Homo sapiens: one gene and its partner. The protein of the gene in region 1 purifies or fractionates together with the protein of each later gene. This does not show direct contact. Each region holds a gene or a part of one and is shown in the gene's direction. Other genes may lie near its edges.

Region 1 (3,811 bases):
CACCTTCGGTTCCCAGAGCAGGCTTTATCTGCATCTCAGTCAGGGCCCACTCAGAGGTACACCAGAAACAATTATGAAAGGTTATAAAGGTGCCATATGCAGATTGCCTGAACTCTCTTGAATTGGTATATTTTCCTACATGTTAATTGCTATATATTGTGTAAGTTAGATAAATAGCTCACTGAAAAGTGGAGAGCCGCATTAGGGATTTGTTCAGAATGCTGATGACTTCCACACTAGCTGTATACTGCTAAGAGCTGAGAGACTGTGTACTGAAAGCTTAAGAGCAGTGTCAAGAACTAGACAACCTGGCTAATTGTAAATGGCCCCCCTTTCAGCATTGACTTTGATGTCTCATTATGTCTTTCAAATGAGACCCTCCTTCTTCCCCCTAACCCTGCACAAAATTCACAATCCCTCCTCTGTCCCCCTTTTTATTGCTGTTGTCTAAAATATATTAGACATGGGAAAAATGACTCATTTTTAGAGCATCATGCCTAGTAATAATAGAATTTACATAAAAGCAGCATCTGAGAGAGATAGCCTTCTTTCTTTGGTTTCAATGGAAAACTTGCTTGATTTCAAAGGGCAGTCATAGTATAAACTGTCAGTCAAAGGGAGATAATGGGAAGGGAACTAAAACATATTGCAAACCTATTATGTGCCGGGTGTTCTAAATGTAATCATCTCTATTCCTCACAGCAATCCCGTAGGTAAGTATTTGATTATTTGCATCTCACACATACATGAACAAACTTGGAGAGACCAAGTTAACTTTCCAAAGGAACTAAGCCTATCTATATCTTAGGAGCTGGGATTTGATCCTTGAGCTCTGCTCTTGTCTGACTCCAAAGCTTAAGCTGTTATCACAATAAAACACAACATCAAGTGCTGTGTGGAGATTGTTGTTGTTGTGTAATGTACTTTCTCCAAGAAGCCAAAGTAGTTTCTAAACTGCTTGCTCAGGAGAAAACAGAGTGGGTCATGTGCAACAGAAGTATGTTACCTAAGGAAACACTTGCTCTTGTAACAAATAAAAACATTGTATGGCTCAACGCAATAGAAGTTTATTTTTCACCCGTGTGAAGTCCTGCCAGAGGCGCGTGAGGCTGTAGTGCGGTGGATGGTTCGGCACCCCAGACTGCCATCTTTACACTTGACCCCCACAGTTGCCCTGGCAACATGTAACAAGCTGACCAGGAGATGGGGGTGGGGAATGAGGAGAAGTGGAGCATGGTATGAGAGGTTTTTATGCTTTTAGGTGATGTATTTCAATTCCAGGCCTGGGAATGGAATACATTACTTGTGCCCACATTCTGTTGGCCTCCACTCAGGCAAATGACTCCACGTGATTGCAAAGCAAGGCTGGGAAATTAGTCTAGCTGGGTGCTAAGGAGGAAAGGGAAGTGGGTTTGGTGAACAGCCAGTGAGTCTCTGCACAGGAGTGGGAGTTTGAGATGAGTAATCCTATCTAACTGGATCCTAGAGGGAAGGTGGCTGCTAGTGTTCTAAGTTACTACTGATGTGAACAGATTCTGACCTTTGGCTGCCTAGTTGTTTTTGATAAATTAACTCTTAGAATAATGATGAATGTCTTGGCCGTTCCTCAAAAACCTTTGGCTGTTTGCAGCAGATGATGGATGTCTAGAAAACACCCCTGACACTGCAGAGTTCAGTCGAGAGTTCCAGTTGCACCAGCATCTCTTTGATCCGGAACATGACTATCCAGGCTTGGGCAAGTGGGTAAGTCCTATCTCAATTGTTAGTAGATTTTGCACTTTGGTACTCTGAAGGTGCTGATGGCAGGGATGAGCAATATGGGCAGAAGGAGAGAAGAAAAATTATTTAGAAGCTAATTTTTCAGAAATCTCTGGTTGACAGAGCTTCAAGTCATGACTACTCAAAACCACACTTATGTGTCCAGGCAGCACTATACCAAATCCAACTAAAGAGACAGCAACCTAACATTGACCATAGTCTCCAGAGTCTTCTACTCTGGTCTGCTTCACAGCCTGTGTCATACACATCCTAAATTTCACCAGTGTTTCATGCATCTCTATAGGGTTTTATCAAAGGATATGATTTTTTTTAATTGACACAGAAAATTTGCAAATGTGATCTCTAAACTAAGGGAGATGATCTCTGCAGAATCAAGGGAATAAAGATGCCAGAGCTTAGAAACAGATATATATAATTCTGCTTTATAGAAAGAGAAAAAATATTCCGTGATGTGTAGCAGTGAGATTGCTGTCAGTCCTAGGTAAGTGCATATAGCTGTCAGTTAAGGGAGTTGTTTATAAGCACTTGGAAAGATAAATCATGACCATTTGGCATCAGTGTGCTAAAAACAAGTCTTGCCAATCTAATTATATTCTTCCATTTGCCAGCATTATTCATTTATTTGCCAGCTTGATGAGGGAAATGCAGTGGGCATGGTGCATTTGGACTTTTGCAAAGCATTTGACAAGATCGTTTTATGTTCCCCTATTGGAAGAGGTGGAAAGATACAGCCTAGGCAACAGAATGTCACCAAAATGGGGCTTGTTAAAGAGTCCATGTAAATAGGGAGGGAGATTTCACATGGTATTCTGTGTGTCTTAGCACTACCCCACTCCACATTTTTATCAATGTTTGTAATAATATAGAACTTGTACTTATCAGATTCCCAGAGGATGACATGAAGTTGGAAGAGATACCATCAGATGACAGAGTTGGGATTCAAGAAGATCCCAGCAGACTAGAACAATGAGCCAAACAAGATCAGAACTGAGTGGGGATATGTCTGTGTTTCTGTGGTTGGGCCAGATGCTGAAGCCATGGGAGAAAAGTGGGGAAATACCTAGGAGTGTTCCTTCACATGTAACAGTAGGTGGCCAGTACGTCTGTGGAATGAATGAGTGAGTGAATGAGCAAATATTCCAACTCCCTCAGCCCTTCTAAAGTCCTCATCTCTTCTTAGCTCATTATTGGCAGATGGCCTTGCTTACTGCTTTACTGGGAACACTGAAATTTCAAAACTAAACTCCCTCCTTTCCTCCTACATTGTTTTAGAGAAATCTTCATTAATGACCACTTTTATTTTTTTCAGCGTCTTGCTTTAACATGCATTGTCAGTTCCCTCTGTCTTCAACATACACACATTTCCTGTCTTAAAACAACAAAGCAACAACATTCCTAAGTTAATTTTGCTTCTTCCAATTTGCATTATTCCATTTCCTTCTTTTTCATAAACAGTTCTGTTTGGAAGAATTGGTTTGTGGAGCCACTTTCAAGCCTAGTAGTAGAGCTTAAACATGTTGAATTAAATAGAAAAACATCTATAGGTTCTCGAATAGGAGACTGAAATAATAAAAGCCTTCTATAAAAGAAGTTATTTTGATGGCATATTAAAGGATGAAGTAAAAGGAGAAGAGACTAACCCTAGACAGGAAGAAAATATGGGGAGTCATTTCAGTTATGATGACTGTGAACACCGTGAAGAAGGGTGAGAATCCAAGACATTTTAAAGGGGGAAAAACTAACTAGAATTGGTATACGGAATAAATATAACATGAAGAAGAAAGAAGAGATATGTCAGGTTCATATGAAATGGACAATATGAACTTTTTCTTTGAATGCATTTTAGAAAGAAAGAAAAGAGAGGAATAGAGGGAGGAAGGACATAAAAAAGAGAAGAGAGAGTGAGGGAAAGAGTAGATTGCGGAGGAGTACTGGGAAGAGATCCACAAGAGGTGATCGAAGCATTGCCAAACAGAAGCAAAAGCCAGGTTCGATAAGGCACAAAGAGAACACATTGAGCCTGCTGTGTTCC
Region 2 (4,515 bases), 8.3 Mb from region 1:
ACAAAGGAGGTGCTCATATGAACGAAAGGGGACAGGATAGAAGAGAAGAGGGAGACTGAATGTGGGAAATGGAGAGAAAGCGAAAAAGAAAGGAATAACCAGAAAGGACCATTTGCTGGTAATTTTTTTTTTTTCCTGATTGGAAAAGTAATTCATGCTCCCTGTAAAAATCCAGACTTTTTCATTACTGTTTAAGTTTGATACTGAAAGTCCTCCTCTGGTGCCAGCCTCTGCTAACTGTTTAGGTATATTCTTCCAGATTATTTATTACACGAATACTTTTTGTTTTTAAAGAAATAGCTTTGTACTATACACACTGTTGTGCAAGTTTCCCACTTATATCTGCGACACCTTCGGAATGAATATGTGAAGTGTGAAGATCACGTTTAGTTTAAATATTGAATTAGAATCGAATGAGAAGCCATGTTGCACATTGCCCCTGCCAGCCATCTCCTGGCCAGTTTAGAGAGAAGGCCTTCAGCTGCCTCTGTTTCCCTTTTACAGTCAGTGACATCCCCTGAGGGCAGTCCCTTGCTGCGTATTGGGTCAACCCCCGGCGGCCTGTGGACTCGGCTGGGAGGCCAGAAGCCGAGGGAGAAGACCAGTAGCTGGCCATAGTCTTGTGGGGGCCTCACTGGGCCCTCCTTGCCCGCTGCTCCCGGAACCTTGTGCCTATGGATTAATCATTGCTGCAAAATCTCACGTCCAGGAAGAATTAAACCCATCGCCTTGGGGGCAAGACTAGCCTGGCTTTTGCATCTTTATAGCCTTTCTCCGCAGGTGCAGCCACCACCTCCAAAGTGACTGCCGGTCGGTCCAAGCGCTCTAACAGGCTCTTCCCCGAGCCTACCTGGGCTCGAGGGGTCCCACACCTGGTCCGGGGCGTAGCCCATGTGAGGCCTGCAAGCTCCGGGCGCCTGGCCTACCTAACTCAGCCCCGCAGTCTCTGCAGAACCCCCTGCAGCCCCGTGGCCCAGTTTCTCCATTTGCTCACAATGGCCAACGGCGTGAGGCACTTGAGCGGAATGCGGACGGTGCCTCCGACAGCTTTCCCGCAGTGCATGATCTCAGGAGGGGCCCCAGAGACGGAAGTTTACGACGCCCAGAGCGCTCCTTCTGGACGTGCCCTGGACTCGACTTGGGACTGAGTCTGTGCCGCCTAGGCTGGCAGGGACTCGGCCAGATGCACTAGCGGCAAGGCTGGGCTGACACCGCCTGGGACTCGCTCGCCGTACCTCCAAGGGGCCCAGGTCATGAGGGGGCGGCTGGGGAGACGCCCGCCCGGTGCCCGCCCTGGGCCCGGCGGGTGCCCCCTGCCCGCCGCCTGACGCAATCCGAGGCGCCCTTGCTGCATGCCGGCGCTGGAGAAACCTCCCCTGCCGTTGCATCACTCCTGCCAGGTTTGCCACAGAGGTGGAGCTGAACCAATCAGCGGGCGCGCTGGGCCCGCGGCGCGGTTAAGTGAGAAGCAGAATCCGAAGTTGATTGGCCAAAAGGGGATTTGCCCCACCCCAATCACCGCGGCAGCTGGCCGCGGTGGGCGTGGTCTCCCGGCAAGAAGGTTTAAAGGGCGCCTCCATGGGGGGCGCTCAGCTGGAGCTACCGAGCGGTGCCAGGCCAGGTGTGTGCGTCCGTCGGTCTTTCCGTGCCCACGCCGGAGACCAGCCCCGGAGGCCGCCTGGGCCTATCCCTGTGCCAGGCACCATGAAGCAGGAGTCTGCAGCCCCGAACACCCCGCCCACCTCGCAGTCCCCTACGCCGTCCGCTCAGTTCCCCCGAAACGACGGCGACCCTCAAGCGCTGTGGATTTTCGGGTACGGCTCCCTGGTGTGGAGGCCCGACTTCGCCTACAGCGACAGCCGTGTGGGCTTCGTGCGCGGCTACAGCCGCCGTTTCTGGCAGGGAGACACCTTCCATCGGGGCAGCGACAAGATGGTGAGCATCCAACCGTGCCCAGGGGAGTGAGGGGGTTGGGGGCGGGATACTGGGCGCCAGTGCCCTGGAATGTCCGGGGCTCTCTGGGCCAATAGAAAGAAATGTGTAAACCTGTGTCTGGGGTTTGTGGCTCATTTAAATGTATGTGCCCAGTGCATCACTGTGATGGCTGGAGTCTGTGAACCTGTGGATCCCTGTGTTGATCACCAACTGGGACCACTGACATGTCAGTGTTTCTGGACGTTTCTCCTACATCCGTGCATCGCTCCCCCACCTTCCCCTGCATGAATGGGACTCAGCATGCAGAGTGGGGCACTTGGAGGCCCGGGTCAGCGGGATTGATAAAGGTTTCCTTGCTGATGGCAGAGCTGATTTCTAACTTGTCTATTTCAAAATATTTCTTCCCTCCCTAGCCTGGCCGTGTGGTGACGCTCCTTGAAGATCATGAGGTAAGTGCCCGAATCATGAAGGGGAACCCTGGCCCAGTGTGAAGGGGGACCAGCAGAGAGAGCTCATAGGCTCTTGGCTGCAGGCTAGCTCTGTCTGATGCTTCTCTGGCAGAGTAGAAACGTGTTCTAGCTCAGTGCTTCTCACCAAATCACATGAGGATCTTGTTAGAATGCAGATTTTAGTTCAGTAGCATGAGAATGGGTCCTGAGACACAGCATTCCTAACTAGCTTACAGGTGATGCCACCACATCCTGGACCACACTTTGAGGAGGAATCCTGTCTTCCCTGGTACTAGACCACTTTGTCAACTGTTTTTTTTTTTTGTTGTTGTTGTTGTTGTTTTGTTTGTTTGTTTTTGAGACAGAGTCTTGCTCTGTTGCCCAGGCTGGAGTGCAGTGATGCAATCTTGGCTCACTGCAACATCTGCCTTCCAGATTCAAGCGATTCTCCCACCTCAGCCTCCCGAGTAGCTGGGATTACAGGCATGCGCTACCACACTCAGCTAATTTTTGTATTTTTAGTAGAGACGGAGTTTCACCATATTGGCCAGGCTGGTCTGGAACTCCTGATCTCAAGTGATCTGCCCACCCTCAGCCTCCCAAAATGCTGGGATTACAGGCATGAGCTACTGCACCTGGCCTCAACTATGCCTTTTTTTTTTTTTTTAAGACGGAGTCTTACCCTTGTCACCCAGGCTGAAGTCACTGCAACCTCCACCTCCTGGGTTCAAACGATTCTACTGCCTCACCCTCCCGAGTAGCTGGGTTACAGGCGTACGCCACCATGCCTGGCTAATTTTTGTATTTTTAGTAGAGATGGGGTTTCACCATTTTGGCCAGGCCGGTCTCGAACACCTGACCTGAAGTGATCCACCTGCCTTGGCCTCTCAAAGTGTTGGGATTACAAGCATGAGCCACCACGCCTGGCCTTTCAACTGTTCTTAACAAAGAGAGTACAAGGGCTTGAGGTACTGCCACCAGATGGCTCATCAGCCGACCACAGCCTCCCTTATAGAGCACAGTCCTGGGTGGGGGTGGCATGTTAGGATAGGAGAGGGAGCAGCAAGGAGCTGTCATGACTGACCCCGGGTGTCCCTATTTCTTCCCAGGGCTGCACTTGGGGCGTGGCATACCAAGTGCAAGGGGAGCAGGTAAGCAAGGCCCTGAAGTACCTGAATGTGCGAGAGGCAGTGCTTGGTGGCTACGATACCAAGGAGGTCACCTTCTATCCCCAAGATGCTCCTGACCAACCACTGAAGGCATTGGCCTATGTGGCCACCCCACAGAACCCTGGTTACCTGGGCCCTGCGCCTGAAGAGGCCATTGCCACGCAGATCCTGGCCTGCCGGGGCTTCTCCGGCCACAACCTTGAATACTTGCTGCGTCTGGCAGACTTCATGCAGCTCTGTGGGCCTCAGGCGCAGGACGAGCACCTGGCAGCCATCGTGGACGCTGTGGGCACCATGTTGCCCTGCTTCTGCCCCACCGAGCAGGCTCTGGCGCTGGTGTGAGGGGCTGAGCCCCTGCGGGGAGTGCTCATGTGGACATCAGGGCCAGACACCCACTCCAGTGCACAAGACAGACTTGCGACCGCTTGAGCCCACTGAGCAGATATGGTGGGTGGCTGGAGGCTTCTCTTTCTCAGTCCCTGCCTGTCTGCCAGCCTGCAGCTCTCCTGCTTGACACTGACTTACTACTTGAAACTTTATTTATTGCACCATGTTGGTGTGGTGGGCAGGTGGAGGGCCTGCCCTGGACACAGGGGCCCTGCTGAGCAGTGGCCCCATCCTGGAACTTGACCAGATTCCCCCCAGTGCTGCTGCTAACCCCACACCACCCAGGCCTCCACCTCCCCAGGGAGTCTCCAAGAGCCTCGATCCTCTGCTCACTCAGCCCAGCCATCCATAGCCCTGGGAATTCCACCTGCCAAGGATCCCAGCAGGCTGGATGAGGGATAGTAGGGCATGAGGAGAAGGAGCCCTGTAAGGACTGAGGCCCCGGCCAGCCCTTCTCCTCCACCAGTTCCCCAGAGCAGAGCTGGAGCTGATGCCTGGACACAGCTGCTGAGCCTGGCCTGGGCCTCTTACCCACTTGGTTGTTTTCTTGTCCCTCTGTCTGTCTGTCTATCTAC

What was found.
Region 2: the proteins of SCG5 (region 1) and CHAC1 purify together in Homo sapiens (affinity purification with mass spectrometry; one large-scale study listed by BioGRID and IntAct). This does not show direct contact.

What each region holds. Positions count from the first base shown.
Region 1 is NC_000015.10:32,682,927-32,686,737, forward strand, and holds part of SCG5 (neuroendocrine protein 7B2 isoform 1 precursor), read left to right. Parts: intron 1-1,630; coding exon 1,631-1,743; intron 1,744-3,811. Other genes in the region: ARHGAP11A-SCG5 protein, read left to right, coding at 1,634-1,743. UniProt on the Homo sapiens protein: Acts as a molecular chaperone for PCSK2/PC2, preventing its premature activation in the regulated secretory pathway.
Region 2 is NC_000015.10:40,951,880-40,956,394, forward strand, and holds the start of CHAC1 (glutathione-specific gamma-glutamylcyclotransferase 1), read left to right. Parts: upstream 1-1,591; 5' UTR 1,592-1,704; coding exon 1,705-1,935; intron 1,936-2,348; coding exon 2,349-2,384; intron 2,385-3,493; coding exon 3,494-3,895; 3' UTR 3,896-4,515. UniProt on the Homo sapiens protein: Catalyzes the cleavage of glutathione into 5-oxo-L-proline and a Cys-Gly dipeptide. Acts specifically on glutathione, but not on other gamma-glutamyl peptides. Glutathione depletion is an important factor for apoptosis initiation and execution.